Regions from separate parts of the Homo sapiens genome. Here regions 1, 2 and 3 are each reported to be linked to region 4. The links are microRNA targets in miRTarBase. Many come from high-throughput screens and were not tested one by one. Region 4 holds a microRNA gene; each other region holds the end of a gene's coding sequence.
Evidence for each region. The annotated mature microRNA hsa-miR-6867-3p reads CUCUCCCUCUUUACCCACUAG and lies in region 4 at 4,725-4,745, shown strand. An mRNA with a match to its seed (bases 2 to 7 or 8) in the 3' UTR can be bound and repressed. Matches are read on the target gene's strand: a 7mer-m8 pairs with bases 2 to 8, a 7mer-A1 pairs with bases 2 to 7 and ends in A, and an 8mer does both.

Region 1 (7,116 bases), not on the chromosome of region 4:
TAAGCGGCGCTGTCAACCCATTTCACAGATTCTTTCATCCACTAGCTCAACAAATATGGAATATTACGTGCTGGCCGCAGGGCGGAAGGCAGGACAGATGTAAATCTCGAAAATTAAAGCACAGAACGCGGAGGGGGCCTGGGGCTGACAGCTTCGGGCAGGGGGAGTGGCTTGCCCCCCCCCCCCCCCGTGGTGAGGGGCGCAGAGCCAGGTGTATGTAACAGCCACTTCCCTCACCCCACTTTTCAGATCCAGGAGATGGAGGCCGGGGTGGAAGTCTCGGAGGAGGGTGGATGGGGAAGGCGGGGCCTTAGGGACCCCTCACCTAACGCGTGCCCCCGACCCCACCGCAGGGACTCGCAAGAAGCTGCGCCTGTACCAGTTCCTGCTGGGGCTACTGACGCGCGGGGACATGCGTGAGTGCGTGTGGTGGGTGGAGCCAGGCGCCGGCGTCTTCCAGTTCTCCTCCAAGCACAAGGAACTCCTGGCGCGCCGCTGGGGCCAGCAGAAGGGGAACCGCAAGCGCATGACCTACCAGAAGCTGGCGCGCGCCCTCCGAAACTACGCCAAGACCGGCGAGATCCGCAAGGTCAAGCGCAAGCTCACCTACCAGTTCGACAGCGCGCTGCTGCCTGCAGTCCGCCGGGCCTGAGCACACCCGAGGCTCCCACCTGCGGAGCCGCTGGGGGACCTCACGTCCCAGCCAGGATCCCCCTGGAAGAAAAAGGGCGTCCCCACACTCTAGGTGATAGGACTTACGCATCCCCACCTTTTGGGGTAAGGGGAGTGCTGCCCTGCCATAATCCCCAAGCCCAGCCCGGGCCTGTCTGGGATTCCCCACTTGTGCCTGGGGTCCTCTGGGATTTCTTTGTCATGTACAGACTCCCTGGGATCCTCATGTTTTGGGTGACAGGACCTATGGACCACTATACTCGGGGAGGCAGGGTAGCAGTTCTTCCAGAATCCCAAGAGCTTCTCTGGGATTTTCTTGTGATATCTGATTCCCCAGTGAGGCCTGGGACGTTTTTAAGATCGCTGTGTGTCTGTAAACCCTGAATCTCATCTGGGGTGGGGGCCCTGCTGGCAACCCTGAGCCCTGTCCAAGGTTCCCTCTTGTCAGATCTGAGATTTCCTAGTTATGTCTGGGGCCCTCTGGGAGCTGTTATCATCTCAGATCTCTTCGCCCATCTATGGCTGTGTTGTCACATCTGTCCCCTCATTTTTGAGATCCCCCAATTCTCTGGAACTATTCTGCTGCCCCTTTTTATGTGTCTGGAGTTCCCCAATCACATCTAGGGCTCCTCCAAGATCCTTTTGTCATGTCTGAAATCACTCTTGAGAGGTCTGGGGTGGAGGATGGGGAGTCAGTGAAATGTGTCATGTCTGGGCCCTGTCAGGGACACCCTTGTTATATCTGGGATCCTCCAATCACATCTGAGACCTCCTAGGCTCTCCATCTGATATGCCCTTTCAGGGACCCCACAAAGACTGAGTTCTCATGGGGATCCTACCCTTCCTAGTGCCACTCCCTATGGCCATGCTGAAGACCACTCTGGCCACGCGACTGATTTTGGGTGATCATGGCAGCTCCCCACCCATGTCATTTCTAACCAGAAGTCTCAAGGTCGTCACCCCCCTGCCCCCCAACCGAGGCCCCGGTCGCTGGTGGTGGTCTCTTTAGTGCACTGTAGCACTTGGTGGTGGAGGTGTGAGGGATCCACATTAACAGCAGGCCATCAGCTGGGCAATGGCTCACACCTGTAATCCCAGCACTTTGGGAGGCGAGGCAGGGGGAATGGCTTGAACCCAGGCATTCAAGACCAGCCTGGGCAACATAATGAGACCTCGTCTCTACAAAACATAACAAAAACAATTAGCCGAGCGTGGGGGTGAACACCTGTGGTCCCAGCTGCTCAGGAGGCTGAGGTGGGAGGATCTCTTGAGCCCAGGAAGTAGGAGGCTGTAGTGAGCTGTAATCGTGCCACTGCACTCCAGCCTGGGCGACAGAGTGAGACACCGTCTTAAAAACAAAAACAAGGCCGGGCACGGTGGCTCATGCCTGTTGTCCCAGCACTTTGGGAGGCCGAGGCAGGCGGATCACGAGGTCGAGAGATCGAGACCATCCTGGCCAACATGGTGAAACCCTGTCTCTACTAAAAATACAGAAATTAGCTGGGCGTGGTGGCACGTGCCTGTAGTCCCAGCTACTCGGGAGGCTGAGGCAAGAGAATCGCTTGAACGTGGGAGGCAGAGGTTGCAGTGAGCCTAGATTGTGCCACTGCACTCCAGCCTGGGGGACAGAGCGAGACTCCGTCTGAAAATAAAAACAACAAAAACAGCAGACCATTCAAAATAGGGAGACTTTGCATAATCCAGATTTCTGCCTTCACTTAAAACTTTGGACGGTCTGGAGAGAGTCGGCCAGTTTTCGGTGGGGGGTGGGGAGCTGGAACAGGACAGTAGCCTTTCCTAATGAGGCATTTGTTCTCCAATCTGCCCCAGTCGCTGCCATCCCTGGCTATCTCACCCTAGCAGCTTCTCAAGCCTGTTGGCTTTAGACCACTGTATAAACCCAGCTGGAACTGAAGCCTGGGTGGACTATGGAGCCCTGGTTGGGACCCCCAGGGAGTCAAAGGCTGCGGGCCAAGAGGCCAGAGGTCCTTGAGCCTGGGTGGGCAGGTGGATCTAGGGTGCATGACTTGCTGCTTCCCAACCTTAGTTTGTCCCTTCTGTGAAAAAGGGAGAGAAGGAGGAGGAAGATCTCAAAAAGACTTTCCAGCCCAGTGCGGTGGCTCACGCCTGTAATCCCAGCACTTTGGGAGGCCGATGCAGGTGGATCACCTGAGGTAGGAGTTCAAGACCAGCCTGACCAACATAGTGAAGCCCCTTCTCTACTAAAAATACAAAATTAGCTGGGCGTGGTGGCATGTGCCTGTACTCCCAGCTACTTGGGAGGCTGAGGCAGGAGAATCGCTTGAACCTGGGAGGCGGAGGTTGTAGTGAGCTGAGATCACACCACTGCACACCAGCCTGGGCGACAAGAGCGAAACTCCGTCTCAAAAAAAAAAAACTGTTGCAGCCCCGTTGAGCCTTTGACACCGCCTGAAATCCACCCCACTCCCAGGAGGAGGAGGAGGAAGGAATGCCAATGACCTAGAGACACGAGAAGTCCATGTGGAGGCACACAGCAGCTGATGGCAGAGCCCAGGCTGGGACCTGCCCTTAAGAGAATGAGTGGGAAGGGGGAGGGAGGAAGGGCAGGTAAAACGTCCTCCCCAGGGCCCCCTGCAACGGGGAAGGTACTTTTTACAAAAGCTATCATTGTCACCCTAAATGTGGAATAAAATAAGATGCATCGACGTAGACAAACCTCCTGGGACCTTTTGTCAGGGACTGCAATCCTGCCCCTCCACTGAGGCCGCTGGCTCTCAGAGACACCGTGACATCACGGGTGATGATGAGAGGAGTTCAAAGAGAGAATTATATGCTGGCGCGGTGGCTCTGTAATCCCAACACTTTGGGGGGCCAAGGCAGGAGGATCGCTTGAGTACAGGAGTTTGAAACCAGCCTGGGCAAGATAGTGAGATCCCCTTCCCACCCGTCTACAAAAAAAATAAAAAATTAGCGGGGTGTGGTGGCGTATGCCTGTAATTCCAGCTACTCCGAACTACTGAGGTGGGAGGGTCACTTGAGCACAGGAAGTTGAGGCTGCAGTGAGCCGTGATCGTGCCCCTGCACTCCAGACACGGCGAGACCCTGTCTCAAAAACAAACAAACAAATCACAAAGACACCATACAGCAAAACCTATCTGAACCTTAATGCCGAGAAATAAGAGGCTTGACGCGCAGGCACAGAGGGTTCCGTTTATGTCTTCCTCTATTCCTGCCAACTGAAGTTCTCCACCTCCTCCCCGCTTCCCCTTCCGTCTGGGTGTCTGTCCCCTTCCCTCTGAATTGAGCCCTCGGGCTGGCAGCGAGGGACGCGAGGCTTCAGGTGGCCGCGGCACTGCAGGCCTGGGCCCCTCCCCAACTTAGCGGGGCTCGCGGGAGCGCAGTGGCAGTCTGCCTGGCAACCCGTGACATCACATGGAACTGACGCCGGATTGGCTGGACGCTCCCCGGAGGCGGAGAAATTTCCGGCTCGTAGGGGGTTTTGGAAAAGGAGGAGGGGGAAGATGAACAGGAAAAAAAAGCGGAGGGACTTGTTTTCCTCACACCGGGTCCCTCACGCTGCGTTACTAGCCAGGCAGTCCCCCAGCCTTAACCCTAAGTCCCCAACACCCTTTCCCTCCTTCCTCCCCACAACACCTGGTGTCCCCAAGCCCCGCCCCTCCCCAGGCCCCGCCCCCTCGGCTCCCCGCCGCGTCCAGAGCCACCCCATTCAGAAAGTCACAGGTCCCCCTGCCGGGAAGGGCGCCAACGTCCGGGCAGCCCTCCAGGGCCTTCCCAGCCTCCCACCCGCCCCCACCGGGGACGCCCACCCCCTACCCGCGTCCGGTGCCTGCCGTGCCCGCTCCGGGAAGAGTCGCGGGGAGCGGTCCCAGGAGGGGCGGCGGCCAGTCCGGGGTCCCAGATGGCCGGGGCCCCAGCTCTTTGGGTTTGCCCACGCCCGGGGCGCGAAACTCCGGAGTCCCAGAGCCGCGGCGCCCTCCCCGGAGGCGCAGGGACCTCCTCCCCCCGCCGCCGTCCTGCCTACGCTAGGAAACCGGACCCTCCCTCCCGGCTCCGGTTTCCCGAAAACTCCTGACTTGCAGATGCTAAGAATGGCTTCCTAGACCCTGTCCCTCCCCTCCCTGCTTCATGCCAGAGCTCTGGCCCGCAGCCCTTACCCCCTTGAGACCCTCAGTCTCTTCCTCTTCCTTCTCCCGGGACCCAGGCGTCCAGGCGCTCGTCCTTTCTAGGGAACCCAAGAATCTGGGACCCCAGTTGCTTCTGCTCCCAGACTCAGGGGTCCAAGCACCCAGTCCCCTCCTCCCTGAGATTCTGGAGTCCGAGCCCCAGCCCCCTCCTCCCTCAGACCCAGGTGTCCGAGCCCCAGCCCCTCCTCCCTGGGGACCTGGCTCTCAGCCATCTCCCTAGGTCCAGCTGTTATTTCTCGCCCTTTAGAACATGCGGGCGGAATGTGGGGCGGCCCTGTGGTCTGATGTCTCCCGGAGCCTTCTGGGAGTCTCAGGACTCATTAAAAGGCTCCCCTTAGGGGCCCACCTGTCCTCCCTAGGGCCTAGCGGGACGCGGCTGCGGTCAGAGGAGCAGGAGGAGGTCCCCCGACATGCCTGAGGCAAAACCAGGTGGCGCCAGGACCCCCTCCCTGTGTGGGGATGGGGCTCTTCTTTTCTGGATGGGGATTTGGGACCCCTCTGTTTGTAGGGTTGGGAGAAGGAGGAACCTTCGCTGTGTGAGGAGGAGGCTCCCTTTGCTGTGCGGGATGGGGGTTCCCGCATCAGTTTAGGGTGAGGGTCTCGACTCTGCATGGGGAAGAGGGTCCCTTCCCTTTGTGACAGGAGTTTCCTTCCTTGTATGAGATGGGGTGGGTCTCATATCTGTGTGGGGTGAGGGATCCCCTTCACTCAGCAGGGAGGGTGTTTCTTTTTCTATAAGTGATTGGGGGGGCATCTCTGGTGGAGATGGGATTCTCTGGTTGTAAATTGGGTTCCTTTTGCTTGATGGGGATGGGGGTCTGTGTGTGTAGACTGGGTTTTTTTGTTTGTTTTTGTTTTTTGGTTTTTGGTTTTTTTTTTGAGATGGAGTCTCGCTCTGCCCCCGGGGCTGGACTGCATTGGTGCGATCTCGGCTCACTACAACATCCGCCTCCTGAGTTCAAACAATTCTCCTGCCTGGGGTAGCTGGGATTACAGGCCTGCGCCACCATGCCTGGCTATTTTTGTATTTTTAATAGAGACGGGTTTCGCCATGTTGACCAGGCTGGTCTCAAACCCCCAACCTCAGGTGATCCACCCGCCTCAGCCTCCCAAAGTGCTGGGATGACAGGCATGAGCCGCCGAGCCCGGCCAGACTGGGAGGTCTTTGCATGTGACTGGATTCTCCACATCCGGGGATGGCATCCTCTGGGCAGGGTCTGGGCCACTTCTCTGAGTGAAGACTCAGAGGGAGCCAGGTGCAGGGGCTCACGCCTGTCATCCCAGCACTCTGGGATACCGAGGCAGGAGGATTGCTTGAGGCCAGGAGTTCAAGACCAGCCTGGGCAACATGGCGAGACCTTGTCTCTACAAAAAATTAAAAATCAGCCAGGTGTGGTGGTGCATGCCTGTAGTCCCAGATACTTAGGAGGCAGTTGAGGCTGCAGTGAGCTGTGATCACGTCACTGCACTCCAGCCTGGGTGACAGAGTGAGACCCCGTCTCTAAAAAACAAGCAACAGCAACAACAAAAATGGCCCAGTGCGGTGGCTCATACCTGTAGTCCCAGCACCTTGGGAGGCCAAGGTGGGTGGATCACCTGAGCCCAGCAGTTCAAGGCCAGCCTGGCCAACATGGCAAAACCCCGTCACTACAAAAAATACTAAATTAGCTGGGCTTGTGGGGGTGTGCCTGTAGTCCCAGCTACTCAGGAGTCTGAGGTGAGAGGATCACTTGAGCCCAGGAGACGGAGGTTGCAGTGAGCCCAAATCTTGCCACTGCACTCCAGCCTGGGAGACGGAGCGAGACCCTGCTGGGAAAAAACAGAAACAAAAACAAAAAATAGATTCCAAGGGACCTTCTCTGTAGGATATGGGGTGATTGTGGGTATAAAGATTAGTGGTTCCCATCTGCATGGAGTCACAGGGGAAGTCTCTGTATTAAGGATGGGGGAGCCTCATTTCTGTGGGCACTGAGGCTTCCCCGTGTAGGAATTAGCGGGGCTTCTTCATGCAGGGAATGGGGTCCTTTTTGCGGGGTTTGGGGACCTTCTTTGAATGGGGAACACTTTCTGTGGAGATGAGGCTTTCTCTCTATGAGGAACTCACCGCAGGAATCATGCACCGCTGGGCGGACCCCCTCCTGGGATGTCTGGTCCGCTGGCATCAGGCCAAGCAGGCTGTGGGGTGGGTCCAGCCCCTACTGTAGCTGCAGACCCAGCCGGCAAGGAACAGCAGGCAGGGCAGGGGAAGGATGCTGCG
Region 2 (7,109 bases), not on the chromosome of region 4:
TCACTTCCCAGGTGCATGTCCGTTCCGAGGAATGGGATTTAATGACCTTTGATGCCAACCCATATGACAGCGTGAAAAAAATCAAAGAACATGTCCGGTCTAAGACCAAGGTTCCTGTGCAGGACCAGGTTCTTTTGCTGGGCTCCAAGATCTTAAAGCCACGGAGAAGCCTCTCATCTTATGGCATTGACAAAGAGAAGACCATCCACCTTACCCTGAAAGTGGTGAAGCCCAGTGATGAGGAGCTGCCCTTGTTTCTTGTGGAGTCAGGTGATGAGGCAAAGAGGCACCTCCTCCAGGTGCGAAGGTCCAGCTCAGTGGCACAAGTGAAAGCAATGATCGAGACTAAGACGGGTATAATCCCTGAGACCCAGATTGTGACTTGCAATGGAAAGAGACTGGAAGATGGGAAGATGATGGCAGATTACGGCATCAGAAAGGGCAACTTACTCTTCCTGGCATGTTATTGTATTGGAGGGTGACCACCCTGGGCATGGGGTGTTGGCAGGGGTCAAAAAGCTTATTTCTTTTAATCTCTTACTCAACGAACACATCTTCTGATGATTTCCCAAAATTAATGAGAATGAGATGAGTAGAGTAAGATTTGGGTGGGATGGGTAGGATGAAGTATATTGCCCAACTCTATGTTTCTTTGATTCTAACACAATTAATTAAGTGACATGATTTTTACTAATGTATTACTGAGACTAGTAAATAAATTTTTAAGGCAAAATAGAGCATTCAAAGCCAGCTTGGAATTTAATTCTGTCTTGATACCTTGTTATTTATGCAAAAACTCCTATCTCCTTTCCTTTATGACAAGAGAGTAAGTTTTAGGTTGGGATCCATGTTCTACTGATTTCTGTATTTCTGTCTTTGTTAAGTCCAGTGCTTTATTTATATCACTCAATAATGGTTGAACCAAATTGAATTTCTACTTATAGAGCATAGTGAAATGATATTTTATAAAATGAATTAGTTGCTCTGACATGATCACAATCAAATTACTAAACATTTTAGAAACTAAATTAAACTCCTTCCCCCCTCTTCTCCTTTAAAGCTATTTGTATGAAATGAAGTCTGGCACCATGCCCCCTTTTATTCTCTATGTCTCACACCCAACTAAAATAGTTATTATTTCTGGGGATGATGGTGGGCAAGGAAAGGTATTTTCCACAGGGATCTAGCAATTCTGTTTAACTAGTGGGGATTCCTAGGGGTAGATGGACATTGGGAGCGAACAAACTTTCTAAAGCTGGGGGACTGTGGACCACCCTCTCTCCTACCTGCCTTAGGGTCTAGCAGGTCTTCTCCAGGATGAGGGCGCCAGTCTGGGTGAGGGTGGGTGAGGAGCTGGCTTCTGGGTTGACCTCAATATTCTGCTCAGGTTCTGCTGATTGAGCATTTTCCTCTCTTCTTTTTTTCATGAGGAGATCCCTGTTCCTGTCTTGAGAACTTGAGTCCCTTCCTCCATCTTCCTCCCTCCATTTACTCCTCTCTCTGACTCTCTCTCTTGCTCTCTCTCTCATGACTCACTACTGATCACCTGTGAGTTTTTTTCACGGGCTGAGACGTGCCCGCCTTCTTCCACACTCATCCTAGTTCCTTGTTTCTTTAAAACTTGCTCAAGAACCAACTCCTGCAGGGGGGTTTCCAGTCTTAACCCCACTCAGCAAAATTCACCACCATTTATGGGCTTTCCTCATCACATTTATGGGTGAAATGCCCCGGGGAGGGCACTGGTCATCTGGCCAGGTCTGCACTAAGTTGGACTGATTTCTGAGAATAGAGTCCATGGTCGCTTTTTCTGGATGTACCCTCTCCTGCAGGGTAGGGACTATGATTTTCTTGTCAACTTGAGACTTCTGATTGCAGAGACCAAGAGGTCTTCCATGGTCTTCCATCAGATAGGGAGGAAGCTAAAGGCGAGCATCACGTCCATCATTTTCCCTGCGCGTGGAGTTGTGAGGGGTAGGTTTTCCTTCCCTAAACCTGAGTATATAGAGGATTTAGGGATTTTCCCTCAAGAACTAAACATTTCCTCACGGGAGGAAAACATATCCCCCATTGGACTCCTTAGGACAAATCTTGCAGATTATCATACAAAAATGAACAGCCTGAAGTCTAAACTGACTCACTAAGGGGTATTTCCATCCTTGGGTTCTGGCTTAATACTTTCTCCCCTCCCCAACTACTCACTGCCCAGCCTGGCCTCTCCCCAGACTCCGCAGCAGCCTCCTCGCTGCCCCCTTCACTTTCTTATTCCTGAGGGTGTAGATGAGCGGGTTGAGAGCAGGTGTGACCACGGTGTAGAAGAGCGATACGAACTTGCCCCGTGCCTGGTTGTAGCGCTGCGCGGGCTGCAGGTAGGTGTAGATGGCCGAGCCGTAGAACAGGCAGACGGCTGTCAGGTGGGACCCACACGTGCCCACCGCCCTCCTCCGGCCTCCGCTGAACCGCATGCAACAGACAGCTCGGGCCACGGCACCGTAGGAGGCCAGGATGACGGCAAACGGCAGCAGCAGGATGACCACGCGGGCGGCGAACATCTGGTTCTCGGTAGTGTCTCCGTCGCCTCCGCAGGCCAGCTTGAGCAACGCCGGCAGCTCACAGATGAAGTGGTCCAGCAGGCGGGGCGCGCACAGCGGCCGCTCAGCCAGGAGCGCGGTTTGCGCAACCGAGTTGGTGAGGCCGCTTAGCCAGGAGGCGCTGGCCAGCGTGCGACATAGGCGCGGGGAGACGAGCCCCGCATAGCGCAGCGGGCGGCACACTGCGGCCGCGCGGTCCAGAGCCATCACCGCCAGGAGGACGCATTCGGCGGAACCCAGAGCCAGCGATGCGCACAGCTGGGCCGTGCAGTGGCTGCGCGGCAGCCAGAGCGCTGGTCCGCGCAGGTTGGCCAGCAGCGGCGGCACCACGCTAGTAGTGAAGCCCGCGTCTACCAAGGCCAGGTGGCAGAGGAAGTAGTACATGGGCGTGTGCAGGCGCGGGTCGCGCACCGCCAGCAGCACCAGCGCCGAGTTGCCCGTCAAGGTCAGGAGGTAGCACAGGAGGACAAGGGCGAAGAGGACCGGCTGCAGGGAAGGCCAGTCGGAGAAACCCAGCAGGAGAAAGCGCTCCTCTGCGCTGTAGTTGGCCTAAAGGAGGAAAACTCCCAGAATGTTTGGAAGGTCGAAATAAAAAAGGGTGACTACCCCTTATAAGCAAAGGGAAAACCTTGGAGTGTGGGGCTGGGCTGGGAGAAGGAATGGAATCATATACAAGGTCAGTTTGTGGATTGTAATCCCATTTACAGATGAGATTACTTAAAAATAAACTCCCTAAGAATAAGAGCAACACTCCAAGCTTGGCCTGGCCAACACTCGGTAGGCAGAATGATCACCTCCGTTGTTTCAGGTACTCTGTGTTTATTTATGCAACAGTTCATGTAAAATGGAGACGAGGCCAGAAGAATCCTTGAGCAGACAGAGCCAGTTGGGCCTCCTAAGTGACCTTAACCTTGCTTGATTTGCAAGCATGTCTGAAACTTTATTTGTGGTATTTCTTGTAAATGCCTATGTTAAAGAAACACAGAACTTAAGCTCAACCAATCAGAAGCAGCCAACAAAAACGTAATTAGTAACTAGGACTTCCTCATGGGATAGACCAAATAAGGCAACTGTATAACTGTGTAACTGTATAACTGTAACCAATGAAATATTATCTTTGCTTTTATCTATTTGTCCTAAAAAGCCTCCTCCTCATGTTCTCTCTGGGGAGCTCCCTAGCCACTTCTGGATCACTGCTCAAATAAACTCTTAAATATTTTATTGGGCCTTAGTTTACTTTCTAACACAACCCATTATACGGCTGATTACTGATTTTTAATTTGTTGTGAATAGAGACTACTCCCAACGTCCATGCCCCTCCCACTGAGGGGAGATCAGCACACGTATACTAGCCTTTAAATCAGGAATAAGTTGGGTAGAAAAAAAGAACACTTTCTGGTAGACTAGAATATCAGGACATCTTGGTTTTACCTACATAGCTCCCTTTAGCCAGTTATATGATATGGGGAAATCTTCATTTCCCTCTGTCTCAATTTTTTCATATGTAAATCAAGGAGTTTGAACTAGATGTCATCTAAGTTTCCTGTCCCAAATCCTTGGCTTTACTATCAAATATTAATCCAAAAATAAAATAAAAAGAGAACCCCAGGGAACAAAAGGAACCTCATTCTCCAAGGGTCTTGTTGAACCAAGTGTCTTAATGGTACAGAAACATATGGGTTATGTAATGGATGAAAGTTTACGTGATGGACAGAAATCTTTCTGCTGCATGACTCCTGACATAAATTATTATATGGATAACTTATTTTTCACATCATATTCACTGCTGTAAATTACAAAATCACAATAACCTAATTTTTCATTTTTCAGAGGGAAAAAACACTGCTCCCTACCAAAACATCCTGTTTGATTTTATGTTTCACTCATTTTATCCTCACTGGGCAGAATAAGCATTAATGTCATAATTAAGAACCAGGGCTCAGCAGCCAGACTGCCTGGGTTTGAGTCCTGGCTCTGCCATTTTCTAGCTGGAAAACCTTGGGTATGTTACTTAGCCTCTCTCTGCCTCAGTTTCCTCATATGAAAATAGAAATATGTTAAGTGGGCTAAATATGAAAAGCTGTTAGAACAAGGCCTGGCACATAGCAGTTGTTAACTGTCATCCTTTAATAAATGCTAACTATCGTCATATCTGTTTCCCAAATTAAGAAACAGGTTTTTAAGGGGTTCTTATGCTAGGCAGTGATACAACTGCTATGAACATTTACAGCTCTTTTCATTTATTAACTCTAATCTTAACTCACTTGAATATTAGGCAATAGCCTTATTTTATAGAGTATGTTAGGAGAGTAACTGAAGTTAAATTACTTGCCCAAGGCCACATTATTTGTAAATGCTTAATAGGTTTTCCACTTATATTTGACTAACTTCGAGGTCCTTCCTGTTTGATCAACCAGGATCCACTGTGCTAGAGACTGTGGAGTATGAAAGGACATGCAAAGTCTTACCTATATTTATAGATCATTTTATAATTTGGGGTCATATCAGAGATGAATAAAGTAGGAGAGGTGACATTCAGGCTTACAGACCAATGGTGGCTAGAGATGTTGAGTTACAAAAGGTCAAATTCTTTAATGCGGTGATTACACGGACACATAACTGTTCAGCCTGGCAAGCTCTAAACCATTCCTCTTCAAATATGCCACACCATGAAAACAGGCACACAATAATAAAACTGCACAGATAACATTCTTGTTACATGTATGCACAAATTCCCCAAAACATAGGCATGTGTGCACCTGTACACATAAACCCATCATCTCCCTCACACATCTAGAAGACAAATCTGTTGTGAAATATATAATATAATGTGTCATCAAACTTCACTTGGTATTTCAGAATGTGGCTCTCGGCACAAGACCATTTTGTTGTAGGGCACTGTAATACCCAACTTACCTTCATGACTAATCTTTGGCACTAATGTTTACACCTTGAGTTTCCAGATGATAGGTTGGTCTCTTGCTCCTGCTCTGGATTCTCTGGATTTGAAATGGAGTTGGGAGTATTTAATAAAAGATGCAATTGCATAGCTGTGTTGATTTCTGGAATGGATGCCTGGGATCAGAGCCAGGTATTTCAGGAAGAAGACGAGGGGTGGGTGTCATTGTGCTTGTAAATAGAGGAATAAAAAGAACGGGTAAGAAAGAACCTACATTTGTGAAATTTCAGGATCTAGGCAGAGGTGGTGATGTCTGTTCCTGGAGAACCTTGTAATGGGGTACAGACCAGACAAGGACCTGGGCCTTGTGCTGGTAGCAAATCAGCATTAGCTGGTGGTGGTAGCAAATATCCCTCCTGGATCTAAAGGACACAGTTAGAGAGGAGGAAGCATGCTGATGAGTGCTCTCACTAGAGAAAAAACAGGGGACTCAACGTTCCCTGTTATTTAGAAGAGAGGATGGAGCTCTGGGGAATAGATGTCCCACTCCTATCATTAGTACTTTGCATGAAGGTGTCCGGAGAGGAGTCCCCAAGAGTGGGGAAGAGGAAATTCTGGAGGGAAAGTCCCTTTAGGGTAGTGTGCCTCTGGCAGTGTATGAAGGCCAAAGGCAGCGTAATTCCCTCTCATTAATATTTCTACTATTCAATTGGAACTGGTTTAGAATTTCATTCTCTGATGGAGTGACCTTAAGCTAATTGTTTAACTTCAGTGACTCTCAATGTCATCATCTGTAAAACAAGGAAAATAACCCTTTCTGTCAGGAATTTTGTAGATTTGTTGAAGTCATTATTAGTTTTGAATGTAGCTTTGACTGTTATGTCATCAGCTTTGCTCCAAAGTCCACCTCCCCACTTGTGGCTCTCATCATTCTCTTTCCCTTTGCTCCTCCTTCGTCCTTGAAGATTTTTGTCCCTGATCCCCTCTCACTCTCTCCAGTACTGTGATGATTCTTGGTGAATTCAGTATCCTCATAGATTATCTTTCTATACTTTCCTCTCAGTTTCTTCCTCAGTGAGAGGTCCGCAAATTCATCGTGGCCCCTCACGCCCCTTGTATCTTCAGTTCTCTATCAAGCTTAGACTGTCTCGTCAATCACTATTACTCCTTTGCATACATCAATGTTCCTGCCCTTTTCACTTGTTACACTCTTTCAGCTAAATTGCTTTCCTATTTAAATCCAACTATAGTCCTACTCTCTCCCTATATTTGTTCAGCTGACTGTGGCCGAAGGAAAGCCAATAGCCACACTGAGAGGTTTCACTTTACATTCATGACCACTACTTTAAGAGGAAGGGGCTAATGTCATTGATAATCATATTTTCCTAGTCCACTCACTTTCCCCTCTCCTACGTAACTCATGCATACTTTCTGGTCTCCCCTCAAATCCCCAGTACTCCTCTCTCTCAAATAATATCATCTTTCTCAGATAAAAATTTTACTTCATTTTTTACTGAAAAAATGTAAAGCAATAAAAAGAGAAGTTCTTACTAACCCATCTGTTCACCTACTTGCATCTGTGCTCACATATGGGACTCCACCTTTTCTTCTGATACTGCTAG
Region 3 (7,116 bases), not on the chromosome of region 4:
CCCCTCCCACCTCCAGTTGGCGAGCAGGTGTTCTCATGCCACCACTGTGGCAAGAATCTCAGCCAAGACATGTTGCTGACCCACCAATGTAGCCATGCTACTGAGCACCCCTTACCCTGTGCCCAGTGCCCTAAGCACTTTACTCCACAGGCGGACCTCAGCAGCACCTCCCAGGACCATGCCAGCGAGACACCCCCCACCTGCCCACACTGTGCCAGGACTTTTACTCACCCATCAAGACTTACCTACCATCTTCGGGTCCATAACAGCACTGAGCGTCCTTTCCCCTGTCCTGATTGCCCCAAGCGCTTTGCTGACCAGGCTCGACTCACCAGCCACCGGAGAGCTCATGCAAGCGAAAGGCCCTTCCGCTGTGCCCAGTGCGGCAGGAGCTTCAGCTTGAAAATCAGCCTCCTGCTCCACCAGCGGGGTCATGCACAAGAGCGCCCTTTCTCCTGCCCTCAGTGTGGCATTGACTTCAACGGCCACTCGGCCCTGATCCGCCACCAGATGATCCACACAGGCGAGCGTCCTTACCCCTGCACTGACTGCAGTAAGAGCTTCATGCGCAAGGAGCACCTGCTGAACCACCGGCGGCTGCACACAGGCGAGCGGCCCTTCAGTTGTCCTCACTGTGGCAAGAGCTTCATCCGCAAGCACCACCTAATGAAACACCAGCGCATCCACACCGGGGAGCGGCCCTACCCCTGCTCCTACTGTGGCAGGAGCTTCCGCTACAAACAGACACTCAAGGACCACCTCCGTTCAGGCCACAATGGAGGCTGTGGGGGTGATAGTGACCCATCAGGTCAGCCACCCAACCCACCAGGTCCCCTCATAACTGGGCTTGAAACTTCTGGCCTGGGTGTCAACACTGAAGGTCTAGAGACCAACCAGTGGTATGGGGAAGGGAGTGGAGGGGGAGTTTTGTAAATCCAAATCTCTGTGGCTTCATGCTTGTATATGCTCACAGCAGGGCACAAAATCCAAGAGAAGGTCTGTGAGCCCCATCCAACACCCACAGTAATTATTATCTGGCACATCAATGAATTTGGGGTCCTATACACTTGACTAGAGACATGCTTGTGTTTTGGAATTTCACACCCTTACAAGAATACCACATTTTGAAACCCAGAAAGACCTGGAAAGGAGCCCAGCATGTCCATCTTTTCAAAGATACAACAAAAGCAGAAGTTACAAGAATATTGCGGAGAGGTTGGAAAGCAGGATTTAACCTCTAGTTCTCTTGTTCTCAGAGAACAGCAGGTTGATAGTAGATTATGTCTCTAGGTAGAGACAGATACATGAGAAGAGCCTCCAAAACTGGAAGCCCATCATAAGGCATGAGAATGTTTAACTATAAAGCCTTTTATTAGTTCTTTGATAGCTAAGATGGTTGTTGGAGAAAGTGCTTAAGCCACTGTTTATGTTGCTGCCTCCTCTCTCAAAACCAGCCAAGATCTGTTCACACACCTCTGTGGCTGTCTTTCCCTGAAACATGGTAACTCAAGACTGCCTGCCTAGGTTTCTTAGATTAATTATTCACATAAATTTTGTTTAATATTGGTTGAACAAGAAATCTGACTTTAAAAGATTATTAAGGAGAATATTCCTTAACTATACTGGCTTGATTTGAAACAGGCTCTTATTGCCATTTAAACTGCCAGAAATCTTTGCCAAGGTCCTGGTTAAAAAAATTGGAAACGGTTTTCTTAGCCCCAGCTTTAAAAGCTAGAGATCTCAGAGAAATAGCTGGCTTAACAATGACAGAACAGCTTAAAATTTGTGCCTACACCATGTTCTGAGAGTCGTTCACATCAAATTCTTATCTTTTCCAAGCCAGTAAGTTGGCTTCTCCATTCCTGGTGTCTGATATTCTTGACAATCATCAGCAACAAAGATCACAGCACTTTCCAGAAGCATGGAGCTTCAGAAAGTGCCAGTGAACTCTTGGTCCTCAGTAGTGAGATGATAACAGTGTTATAATGCAGCTTCCTTGAGCCATCAGAGAGAGTGTATGTTCACCCTATCTGGCTGTATCCCATTGGCAGTGGACAGATTGAGGAAATTCCTAGATCACTGAGAGCTAAGCACCATGCATAGACAACAGTTTGTTCTTGCCTGTGTTGCTTTTAGGGACTTTGACTACCACATGTTCTTTTCTTGGGGTGATTTAATCACCTGGGAGCATCTGAGTCTGCTCCTAAGTGGCTTTGCAACTGGGCCTAAGTTCTGTTTCCTTTATGGATCTCAAATTTTCATCTGCACAATGAGGCTGTTGAAAGGAAAAAAAGTGAGCCTCTAGGAATTATTCAAAAAAAGTCTGTGATACATTCCTTTTCCTGCCAAAGTTCTGTCTCTGTCTTTGGCTTCTGTCCAGGCAAAGCTAAATAAGACAGCAAAGTCAAAGCAGATAAATTCTTGTTGAAACTTGACTAAAATTTATTTGATTTGTTGTTTTACTCCCACTTGGAATCCTGAGGTAGAAGACAGAATGCAGAAGTCTTACATCTTGGGCAGGAAACTGGTTTATTCCTATACTCTTGTTTCCTCTGCTTCTTCCTGAGGTCTAGAACAAGGTCTGGAAATGTTTAGACAGGATATTTTCTTGATGAAGTGATAAGGAAAGGACCCATTTTTTTGCTCATCACCTAGCCCATCCTTCACTCTCTCTAGTTATGCATAACAACACTAGAAGAAGGTGTTAGCCCAGCTAACTTTGCTTCTGGGAAGGCTATGTCTGAACATGTTGCTCTGTAGGATAATCACACTTAGAAAACATCTGCTCCATGACATTCACAATACCAGGGACCATGGGAGACACAAGAAATGTGTGTCTGCTGTCATAACTTACAGTGAAAAAGCCCAATAATACAGAACAAGACATGATGGGCAATACCCTAGCATATTGGGATTAAGAGCTTTCTAGCCAGAATCTGGACCTATACCATGGGAAAATTTAGGGGTGCTGGGAATCCCAAAGCCAAGGTTCTGGCTTCATTGGCAACCCACTAGGAACTTGAATGTGAGATTCAGCTCTAGTTTGCACCTTGATTTCCCCAGTGAAAAGGGAGAAGAGCCAAAGTATTGTCTAGGTGCTGAGTTCCCTTTTCTGAGTGGATTTCAAGCATTTGCCAGGGTATGCTGGAGGAGGGACTCCTAAAGTAGGTGAGATGTGGGACTAGGTAACACTTTAAATACTTTTTTACTCAAAGATTTGCCAAGAACACAGCTTATTAGTGAAAGAGACCTGTGGATTGAAATGGCTGCAGATAGATCCCGCAGTCCCTTCTGAAAGGAACTGTGTAGCCAGCAGGGACCTAAACTTTGGCAAAAAGTGAACACAATTCAAATACGAATGAAGGAAGAGCCCTCAGATGGAACGAAAGGCGATGTGCAAGGCCATCCCAGAGAGACGGAAGCAGGTGCGATACTAAGCCTCAGCCCAAGAATAAAAGAGAGTTCAACTGTTACTCTTTTCTTTCATCAATCCCCTATCAGTTAGAACTGCAGGCCAGTTCCAAAGAGTGTTTGCTTAAGATTCAAAAGTGGGTAAGTAAAATGGATCAGTGGGAAGGATAAGGTGTCCAACAGAAAGTGTGGAGGAGAAACTCTTGGCCTATCAAGTGCTCCTGAGAGAAACCATGCAATTTAACACTTCAGTTAAAGAAATACATGAGAACTGCTTGTCATGACCAGACAAGATAGGAAAGGGGAAACCCCAGAAACGTGCTCTTCATCTGTCAGCCTTTTGGACCAAGAAGCTGTCACTATCACACATAAGCACCATTCCCTTAGAGTGGATCCAGGTGTTGACTATAACCAGATTTACTCTTTGCTTACTAGGTTTTCCATTGTCACCATTGGATGAACCTCTGGTTTAGCCACAGTTGTGAAAATAAATGGAAGTTGGTTGATTGTCTAGAAAGTGCAAGAAGATGGCCCTGCTCCTTTTCTGCTGAACATTTAGTATTGGAAACTCCTACTTCCCTTTTCATTAATAATGTGTGCAAGTTTCCTATTAGCGGGGAAGGTGTGGGGCTCTGCTGGGCTTCTCTTGAGCATATCTGAGAAGTGATGTTCATGTCTATCTCAACCAGGACCAGACCCTGTGACTTACTCGGTAATAACAGTCCACACAAGCCTCGTTGATATTAAAAAAAAAAAAAAAAAAGGACCTCATTCCAAATGGAATGGGAATCCCTAATTTCTGCTCAGATTTTCTCTGAGGAGGGGCAGGACTCCTGCCCTTCCTCTCATGTCTTAGCTTCTTAAACTACAAAAAGCATCCTCAGTGACTGCCTGAGGGCAGCTCAGTAGCCATGAACAAAAGCATCTTTCTTTCTCAAAAATATTTTCTTACGGACAAGGACCTCTGATGTCACCAAATATGTTTTTTTTTTTCTTTCTTTGTGCCTGATTTTTTTTTTTTTTTTTGAGACGGAGTCTTGCTCTGTTGCCCAGGCTGGAGTGCAGTGGCACGGTCTCGGCTCACTGCACTCCGCCTCCTGGGTTCACGCCATTCTGCCTCAGCCTCCTGAGTAGCTGGGACTACAGGCGCCCGCCACCACGCCCGGCTAATTTTTTGTATTTTTAGTAGAGATGGGGTTTCACCGTGTTAGCCAGGATGGTCCCGATCTCCTGAGTTTGTGATCCACCCTCCTCGGCCTCCCAAAGTGCTGGGATTACAGGCATGAGCCACCGCGCCCGGCAACCTGATTGATATTTCTAACCCTGTTCTCTTTAGTCTTGGTTTTTTGTTTGTTTTTGCTGAAAAATTGTTTTTAGAGAAGTCTCACTGTATTGCTGTGTTGCTTAGGCTGGTCTTGAACTCCTAAGTTCAAGTGATCCTCCTGCCAAGGCCTCCCAAAGAGCTGAGATTATAGGTGTGAGCCTCCTTGCCTGGCCTAGCTCCAGTTCTTTATCTGTAGCAAAGGAGCAGTCATTTCTCACAGGGTTTATACACAGAGGCTGTTCTTTGGTTTTGGTTTTGGTTTTTGAGACGGAGTCTGGCTCTGTGGCCCAGGCTGGAGTGCAGTGGCACGATCTCGGCTTACTGCAACCTCTGCCTCCTGGCTTCAAGTGATTGTCCTGCCTCAGCTTCCGAGTAACTGGGATTACAGGTGCACACCACCACAACTAGCTAATTTTTGTATTTTCAGTAGAGATGGAGTTTCACCATGTTGGTCAGGCTGGTCTGGAACTCCTGACCTTGTGATCTGCCTGCCTTGGCCTCCCAAAGTACTGGGATTACCGTGCCTGGTCCGTTCTTTGTTTTAAAATGTTTCAGACTCTTACAAGCAAAAGATACTCAAGTTAGATCAAATTGGTGGGGGCAGGGAGTGTGCAGGGCCTTAACAACAATACATCATGTATGTTAGTACAGCTTAATGGTTATGAGCAGGGACTCTGGAGTCCTCGATTCAAGTCCTGACATCGTAAGTAAGATAACTGATGTATTATTTAACCATCCTGAGCCTTAGTTTCCTTATCTATAGGATAGGGATAATAATACCTGTGTCTCAGAGGTGTTAAGGCTCAAGGGGAAACCTATGTAGTATGTAACACAGGACGCTCACAGGAGGTGTTCAGTATATCGGCTATCAGATTTTACAGGACCAACCAGACGGGGGGTCATAAAGCTGGGCTGAATTTGAAGTGAATTTGCCAAAAACGGAGGCTGCTCTGCAGAAGTATCATGGGCCAGAGCATATTGTTTCTTGCAGAAAACAATATGGAAGGTTCTGTGTATGTATCTAGAAGGTTAGGTTTATGTATCTTGCAGGAGTCATTTGTCACTTTCTAGGATGTTATTCCTTCTGGCTTTGTTTTAGTTTCTTTTTAAATGAGTAACTGGCCACAATCATGTATACACACATTCACAATGACTTTTCTCAACTTGGTCAATTAAATTGCCTCTTCAAAAAAAAAAAAAAAAAATTTACCCTTAAGACCAACCTCCTGGCCGGGTGTGGTGGCTCACACCTGTAATCCCAGCACTTTGGGAGGCCGAGGCGGGTGGATCATGAGGTCAGGAGATCGAGACCATCCTGGCTAACACTGTGAAACCCCGTCTCTACTAAAAAATAGAAAAAATTAGCCGGGTGTGGTGGTGGGCGCCTGTAGTCTCAGCTACTCAGGAGGCTGAGGCAGGAGAATGGCGTGAACCCGGGAGGCAGAGCTTGCAGTGAGCCTAGATCGCGCCACTGCACTCCAGCCTGGGCAACAGAGCGAGACTCTTGTCTCAAAAAAAAAAAAGGAGACCATCCTCCCATCAAAGAAGGCAGATATTCCAGCCCAGAGATGCCTCAAAAACAGTGTCCTGCAATGCTCTCAAAAATTCCCAGGTTACATTTCAAATAAAATACTTGATAAAGGCCGGGCATGGTGGCTCATGCCTGTAATCCCAGCACTTTGGGAGGCTGAGGCGGGCGGATCACCTGAGGTCAGGAGTTTGAGACCAGCCTGGCCAACATGGCAAAACCCCATCTCTGCTAAAAAGACAATTAGTTGGGCGTGGTGGTGGGTGCCTGTAATTCCAGCTACTCGGGAGTCTGAGGCAGGAGAATCACTTGAACCCTGGAGGTGGAAGTTGCAGTGAGCCGAGATTGCGGCACTGTACACCAGCCTGGGTGACAAGGGTGAAACTCCATCTCAAAAAAAAAAATCCATAAAATAATAAAACCTCATTGAGCTATGTGGCTTTATGTTTACTAGCAAAGCTAGTATTTACTGTAAAATCTTAAAACTGGTCTAAAACTTAAGCTACCCAAGAACAGAGGCCATGTATTATTTTGTATTCCTCATGATGCCACATGCTGTTAGGCACATGGTTGCTCAATGAATGATCATATAGTATGAAGACCACCAGAAGTAGGAGTTAAAAAGTGGATGATGGTCCTTGCTTAACATTCTCTACTTGTATGGGGCAAACTACCTAATTTACAAAGATGTTATTTTCCTCTCTCTAATGTGAAGATTGAACAACATGGTAATATAAGTTCCTTTATTCTGGAGTAGGATTGCCAGAATTGGGGAAAAGGCCCTTCAATTACAAAATTACAGAATTTAAGATTTTACTTTTGGGTCCTGTTCCCTTGTCTGGTTTCTTCCTAG
Region 4 (7,116 bases):
ACTTCCGCCGGATAGACTCCTGTCTGCAGACCCGGGTGGCCTTCCGGGGCTCTGATGAGAGTGAGTGTGGGCATTAGGAGGGGCAGGGTGTCCTGAGTGGCTCAGGGGGACATATCTCTGGGTCTTGAGCACCCTCAGTGGCATCTCCCTGGGTGGTAGAACCAGCCCCTTTCACAGGACCTTCTTCAGAGGCCAGCCTCTGGTGGGGAATAGAGGCACCCTGGAGGAGACTGTGCCAGCTGCTGCCACTCTGCCCTCTGTTGAAAGCCATTTTCCTGTTTCCGTCCAGTCTTCTGCCGTGTATACATGCCTGACCACTCTTATGTGACCATACGCAGCCGCCTTTCAGCATCTGTGCAGGACATTCTGGGCTCTGTGACGGAGAAACTTCAATATTCAGAGGAGCCCGCGGGGCGTGAGGATTCCCTCATCCTGGTAGCTGTGTCCTCCTCTGGAGGTGAGGGTCAGGAAGAACTGGGCTGATGCTCCGAGAGGAGAAACTCACAAGCTCAGGGCTCTGGGGGAGGGGTAGAGACTGAATTCTAGGCCCTTGCTACTCAAAGTATGGTCCCGGGACAAGCCTCATGTGCATCGCCTGGGAACTTGTTAGGATGCAGCATCTTGCTGGGTGCAGTGGTGCAAACCTGCAGTCCCAGCTACTCAGGAGGCTGAGGCAGGAGGATTGCTTGAGCCCAGGAATCCAAGGTAGTACATTATGATTGCACCTGTGAATAGGCACTGCGCCCTATCCTGGGCAACATAACAAGACTCTGTCTCTAAAAGAGATGCAGCATCTGCGACCCCACCCCGACCTGCTGGTCTTGTTCAAATCAGCATTTGGACAGGACCCCCCAGGGGACTCCTATGCCTACTAAAGTTTGGGAGGCACTAGCTGGGCATGGTGGTGTGCACCTGTAATCCCAGCTACTTGGGAGGCTGAGGCAGGAGAATCACTTGAACCGCGGAGGCGGAGGTTGCAGTGCCGAGATCAAGACACTGTGCTCCAGTCTGGGCAACAAGAGCGAAACTCCGTCTCAAAAAAAAAAAAAAAGTTTGGGAGGCACTGGTCTAGGACTCAGGTTCTGATCTGAGTGCTGCCCCTCACTCACCTATGGATTGTATTCTGATCCTTTAACCTCCCTGTGTATGTAAGGATGCCACATTTCACAGGCTAAAGACACAGGATGAGTGGGAAGGCAGAAAGCCAGCAATGTCACTGAAGCTTTGTTTTCCTCTACAGTAGGAAAAAATTTCAGCCTTCCCAGTGTCACAAGGACAACAGAGTAAGAGAAAAGCTGTGAAAGAAAGGGAGTAGAAAAAAAGTTATAAATGCAAAAGAAATAATCATTTGACAAATTCCAGATAAATATGGCATAAACTAGTGATAAGATGAGTTCCATTAGTCTAGAATGTGTCAGTGTGGGGTGAGGAGTTTTTGGATAGGACAGTGTCAGTGTGGGATGTGTGAGGGTGCAGGCGGCAGGGGCCGAGGATGAGCAGCTCTTTCTCCTGCAGAGAAGGTCCTTCTCCAGCCCACTGAGGACTGTGTTTTCACCGCACTGGGCATCAACAGCCACCTGTTTGCCTGTACTCGGGACAGCTATGAGGCTCTGGTAAGAACTTCCCAAGGCCTTGACTGGAATGGAGGGCTGAGGAGGGCTGTGAGCAATCCCTCACCCTGCCACCAGGAGCCCAGCCCCTATGCCCCTGCCTGCCACCAGGTGCCCCTCCCCGAGGAGATCCAGGTCTCCCCTGGAGACACAGAGATCCACCGAGTGGAGCCTGAGGACGTTGCCAACCACCTAACTGCCTTCCACTGGGAGCTGTTCCGATGTGTGCATGAGGTGGGGACCGAGGCTGGTGCTATGCTGGGGGGCTGGAGGGAGAAATGTGCCATTGGGAGACGGTGTTCGCAGCACAACGTCCTGGTTCCAAGGCTCACTTGCAGCAAGCCCTTGGGCAACGCATGGCCGTAACCTTTGTTCCCCCATCTGAAAAAAATCGCAAAGAGAGAGACCCCAGAGCACAGTGGCTCAGGGCCCAAGTGCTGTTTACACAGAACCTGACCCAGGATTTCTATTTTTAAAATATTCACTATTAAAGAAATAAAATAAGGCAGAGACAATAATGCCTAGCAGATGGTTGTCTTGAGGATGTCAGCCGTGAGCGAATGCCTGGCACCTAGTAAGTGCTCAGTAGCTGGTGAAATATTATTAATGCTGGTTGTTTTCTTTTTCCGCATCTTTGCCGCCTCCTGTCCTTTCTATTTTTCTATTTTCCACCCCTTCCGCCCCCGCCCTCCTGCCTTTCGCTCCTCATCGCCTTGCACTGCCATCTTCCCACCCACTCCCCTCACCCCCTGGCGCCCTGGCCGCCCCTCCGCTGCCGTGGGTGCAGCTGGAGTTCGTGGACTACGTGTTCCACGGGGAGCGCGGCCGCCGGGAGACGGCCAACTTGGAGCTGCTGCTGCAGCGCTGCAGCGAGGTCACGCACTGGGTGGCCACCGAAGTGCTGCTCTGCGAGGCCCCGGGCAAGCGCGCGCAGCTGCTCAAGAAGTTCATCAAGATCGCGGCCCTGTGAGTGCGGCCGTCGGCGGGATGGGGGGCCGGAGGCCGGAGGCCCGCGCCGCCGCCCGCCCCTGACCCCGCCTCCCACCCCCGCAGCTGCAAGCAGAACCAGGACCTGCTGTCTTTCTACGCCGTGGTCATGGGGCTGGACAACGCCGCTGTCAGCCGCCTTCGACTCACCTGGGAGGTGATGAGACCCCTCCCGTTCCTACCTGGGAATCTGGGCATCCCGGGCTCCCCGAAGTGCGTCCTCCCGGGACGGCCGCCGGCCTGGAGGGAGTCTTTGCGCCAGTTGGAGGGAGGCGCCCTCTTCTGGCATACGCAACCCCAGGGCGCACAGCTTGGCTAATGGACCCTGTCTTTGTGCAAATTAGTGAAAAGCCCGGATCCCGCCTGAGTCACGGCAGGCAGCCCTTGGCCAGGTCAGGTCGCAGACTTGGCTGTGGGAGTTGGGCTGATTTTCATCCACACTCAGTGGGGGCATCTTTATACAAAGCACCTGCATAAGACAGACCTGGCCTTCCCCAGAATAATGAATTCCTCTGGGCTGTTTCAAGCCTCTAGACTTAGCCAAGGCCTGACTTCATTTCCCCACCCACCAGCTTCCCAGCCCCCTACAAGCCATGCAGGCCCTTTTGCCCTCCAACAGGGAGAATTAATCCGAGGCTCCCATGTAACCCAAGGAGCTCCACTCTGATATCCCTTCTCCTTCCTTCAAACTCTGCAGAAGCTGCCAGGGAAATTCAAGAACTTGTTTCGCAAATTTGAGAACCTGACGGTGAGTGGGTTTGGCTCTTTCTTCTGCTCTTGGACTGAGAGCCCAGAAACCCTCTGTTCCCATAAACCCCCTTCCTCAAGCTTTCCTTTCAAGGTGTTTAGTGTATGGGACCCCCCACCCTCCTTACCATGCTGGAGGGTGAGGTTGGAAGGATTGCGCCCCTGTTTTTCTTGAAGGAAAGGGGGAGTAGTCAGGTCCCTCCCCACCACACCATTAGAAAGCCCCCAGCACCCCTATCTGATCAGGAATGTATACAAGGCAGGGGGTGAGGGAGGAAGCTGAGGACATCTTTGGGATGCATTGGCCAGTCTGTCCCTTGATCTCTCTCCTGTGGAATACTAGGACCCCTGCAGGAACCACAAAAGCTACCGAGAAGTGATCTCCAAAATGAAGCCCCCTGTGATTCCCTTCGTGCCTCTGATCCTCAAAGGTGAGAGAGTTACTCCCAAGCTGTGCCGCTTCCACCCATGCTTCCCTTCTCCTATGCCCTGCTTCTGACTTCCAGCTCCCTCTCGACTCAGCCCTGAGTACCCACCTGGAGAGGAGCCCCCCACCACAGACGGAGTGGGTTCTGGGGAAGAGCGGGGTCCTCGGGTGCAGTGGCCCCTTTCGAACTCCTCTCTTATCCTTTCCTCACATTGGATTCTCTCCACATCCCCTAGACCTGACTTTCCTGCACGAAGGGAGTAAGACCCTTGTAGATGGTTTGGTGAACATCGAGAAGCTGGTGAGTGAGTGGCACTGCAAACCCCTAGTCCCACAAGTGGGGGGCTTGCATCCTCTCCCTCTCTCATCACCTCCCAAAAATAGCAGCCTTCCTCCAAGTGCCCAGCTTGCCTAACAGACTCTTGACTGTCTCCCTGGTGGCATCACTGTGGCAACCCACCCACAGGTGGCAGAGCTGACAGGCAGCTTGGGGGCAACTTCACCTCCCCCTCACATGGCACTCTGTTACACCCACTCCTTTGGTCCTTCAGAGACCCTCCAGAATTGGAGACTGGAGGGAGTAAAGCAGAGTGGGAGAATGGCGGAGGGGGAGCATAAGAGGGGGAGCCTCTTTCTGTGCCCCTTTCAAGGCTCATTCCTTGTCATCTCCCAGCATTCAGTGGCCGAAAAAGTGAGGACAATCCGCAAATACCGGAGCCGGCCCCTTTGTGAGTACCCAGGGTACTGAGAGCAGTACAGATAGAGCTTTGACTGAACGGGAGGGTTCAGGGGAGAACTCCCTGTCCAGATGTGTATTTCCATACACTTGCTGGTTCCCCATTCTCTCCTTGCCTCTGCAGAGGCCTTCCTGCCCAACATCTGTCTCAGTCCACAGCCTGATCTTCTGCCCGGTGTGTGTGTAGAGGAAGAAGGGAAGCTGGGAACCTGACTGCCTCTCCCTCTTTACCCACTAGGCCTGGACATGGAGGCATCCCCCAATCACCTGCAGACCAAGGCCTATGTGCGCCAGTTTCAGGTCATCGACAACCAGAACCTCCTCTTCGAGCTCTCCTACAAGCTGGAGGCAAACAGTCAGTGAGAGTGGAGGCTCCAGTCAGACCCGCCAGATCCTTGGGCACCTGGCACTCAAGCACTTTGCACGATGTCTCAACCAACATCTGACATCTTTCCCGTGGAGCAACTTCCTGCTCCACGGGAAAGAGGTCGATGGATTTACCCCTGGACCCATAAGTCTGTTCATCCTGCTGAAGTCCCCTCCCCATTGCTCCTTCAAGCCAAAACTACACTTTGCTGGTTCCTGTCCCCTCTGAGAAAGGGGATAGAAAGCTCCTTCCTCTATGTCCTCCCATCGAGATCTGTTCTGGGGATGGAGCTTCCAACTTCCTCTTGCAGCAGGAAAGAATGCTGCTCACCCTTCTGTCTTGCAGAGTGGGATTGTGGGAGGGATTGGCAGCCTTCTTCTCCACCACCTGTCCAGCTTCTTCCTGGTCAGGGCTGGGACCCCCAGGAATATTATGTTGCCGTGTGTGTGTGTGTGTGTGTGTGTGTGTGTGTGTGTGTGTGTGTGTGTGTGTGTGTGTCTTCTTTTAGGGAGCAGGAGTGCATCTGGTAATTGAGGGTGGATGTTGTGTGTGCTGGGGAGGGGTCCTTCTGTTTGGTGCTACCCTTGTCTACTCTGCCCCTGGATGGTGCGGGGTGCTTTCTCCACCCCCACACTCCCTGCTCAGCTCCTCGTGCTGCCCTGCATGCCCAGGCTTGTGAGCCAAGCTGCTTTTTGGGGCAGGGAGTAGCAGCAGGTGGGAGGGGTTACCCATCAGCCCTTGCAAGTCCCCCACTCAGGCCTCTGGAAGGTCCAGGGATGGGCTCTGATGAGAGGGTAAAAGATGCTCAGGGAAACACAGGCCTCAGCTGCCTAGAGGACCCTCCCCCTGCCTTGCAGTGGGCTCGGGTAGAGCAGTATCAGGAGCTAGGGTTGTCTGCTGCCCACACTCCTGCTTTTTGGGATATCTAACTGCTAAGGAGGGAGTTGACATCCCCCTTCTGGCTCATGTGTCTGACACCAACAACATGGTCTCTGTCCCTCTCTCTTTGACTCTCCCTTTGTCCTCCCCATAGAGCTGGGGTGGGGTGGATCCCTATACCTGGGGCAGGCAGCCCCAAAGTGGGGGAGGGGGATGGCAGAGACTGTAAAGGCGCCACTGGACTCTGGCAAGGCCTTTATTACCTTTACTCCCCTCCCTCTCCCATCACCAGCCTCAAGGCCTGAGGGGTGCAGGGGCTCCTGGCAGCTACTGGGTGAGGTTTCCTGGCACAGACTCACCCTTCTTTCTGGCACCACCTCTTTCCCTTTTGAAGAGACAGCAACAGCCGTAGCAAAAGCAGCTGCTGCTCCTGCTATGAGGGTGTATATATTTTTTACCCAAAGCTCTGGAATTGTACATTTATTTTTTAAAACTCAAAGAGGGAAAGAGCCTTGTATCATATGTGAACATTGTATCATAGGTAATGTTGTACAGACCCTTTTATACAGTGATCTGTCTTGTTCCTGCAGCAAAAATCCTCTATGGACATAGGAGGTGCTGTGTCCCATGCCCTCTTGCCCTGACAGTGTCCCATGGGCCCCCTTCTGCTCCCTGCCCCCTCCCTGCTACTGCTGATGCACTCTCCTCTCCCTGCAGCCCCTGGCTTCCCAGCCTTCCTCCTGACCCCTTCCAACAGCCTTGGAACTCCAGCTGCCACCACCCTCTGGGTCGGACACTGGGACCCACTGGCCCAGTCTTGGCTGCTGCTTACCCCTAGCCTTGATGCCTGCCCAGGGACCCCCAGCCCCCTCCCGTTGCCCTGCAGCTTTAACAGAGTGAACCATGTGTATTGTACAGGCGCGGTTGTCATTGCAGAAACCGCTGGGTGGAGAAGAAGCCGATAAAGTCTATGAATCAACCTGCCTGTTGTTCTCCATTCTGTTTTCTTTGAGGCTGTGGAAGTGCTGAGGGAGGGGAGAGGGGATGGCCGCCCAGTGCTGTCAGGAGCAGGGCTGTTCTGGAGTGACTTTGAAAATGTGGGTGGCGGGGTACAGTGGCTCATGCTTGTAATCCCAGCACTTTGGGAGGCCGAGGCGGGCAGATCACCTGAGGGCGGGAGTTCGAGACCAGCCTGGCCAACATGGTGAAACCCTGTCTCTACTAAAAATACAAAAATTAGCCAGGTGTGGTGGTGCATGCCTGTAATCCCAGCTACTTGGGAGGCTGAGTCAGGAGAGTAGCTTGAACTCAGGAGGCGGAGGTTGCAAGGCGCAGTGGCTCTCCAGCCTGGGCAACAGAGCAA

Region 1: the mRNA of SPIB is a reported target of hsa-miR-6867-3p. Seed matches in the 3' UTR shown: 7mer-m8 at 2,355-2,361 and 7mer-m8 at 2,739-2,745.
Region 2: the mRNA of UBD is a reported target of hsa-miR-6867-3p. The part of its 3' UTR that is shown has no 7-base or 8-base seed match.
Region 3: the mRNA of ZNF398 is a reported target of hsa-miR-6867-3p. Seed matches in the 3' UTR shown: 8mer at 3,069-3,076.

Annotation. Positions count from the first base shown.
Region 1 is chr19:50,427,685-50,434,800 of GRCh38, forward strand. It overlaps SPIB (Spi-B transcription factor), which reads left to right. Exons shown (of 6, transcript NM_003121.5): 6 at 354-3,630. The coding sequence ends at 652. It overlaps MYBPC2 (myosin binding protein C2), which reads left to right and starts at 5,208. Exons shown (of 28, transcript NM_004533.4): 1 at 5,208-5,288. The coding sequence starts at 5,270. RefSeq lists enhancers at 1-546, 547-1,119, 675-964, 5,014-5,772, 6,587-7,087 and silencers at 4,325-4,414, 4,445-4,664.
Region 2 is chr6:29,549,253-29,556,361 of GRCh38, reverse strand. UBD (ubiquitin like modifier D) reads left to right here. Exons shown (of 2, transcript NM_006398.4): 2 at 12-847. The coding sequence ends at 482. OR2I1 (olfactory receptor family 2 subfamily I member 1 (gene/pseudogene)) reads right to left here and starts at 5,955. Exons shown (of 2, transcript NM_001396058.1): 1 at 5,505-5,955; 2 at 1-3,137. The coding sequence starts at 5,510. The coding sequence ends at 2,196.
Region 3 is chr7:149,178,869-149,185,984 of GRCh38, forward strand. It overlaps ZNF398 (zinc finger protein 398), which reads left to right. Exons shown (of 6, transcript NM_170686.3): 6 at 1-4,174. The coding sequence ends at 933. Among named protein-coding and RNA genes, the nearest start is that of ZNF282, 13 kb to the right of the region's middle.
Region 4 is chr17:40,188,919-40,196,034 of GRCh38, forward strand. It overlaps MIR6867 (microRNA 6867), which reads left to right and starts at 4,679; the gene lies at 4,679-4,745. RAPGEFL1 (Rap guanine nucleotide exchange factor like 1) reads left to right here. Exons shown (of 15, transcript NM_016339.6): 5 at 1-60; 6 at 290-457; 7 at 1,516-1,613; 8 at 1,722-1,844; 9 at 2,398-2,576; 10 at 2,664-2,754; 11 at 3,295-3,345; 12 at 3,688-3,775; 13 at 4,008-4,072; 14 at 4,445-4,499; 15 at 4,746-6,732. The coding sequence ends at 4,870. RefSeq lists a silencer at 2,564-2,623 and enhancers at 2,744-2,823, 5,525-6,025, 5,650-5,699.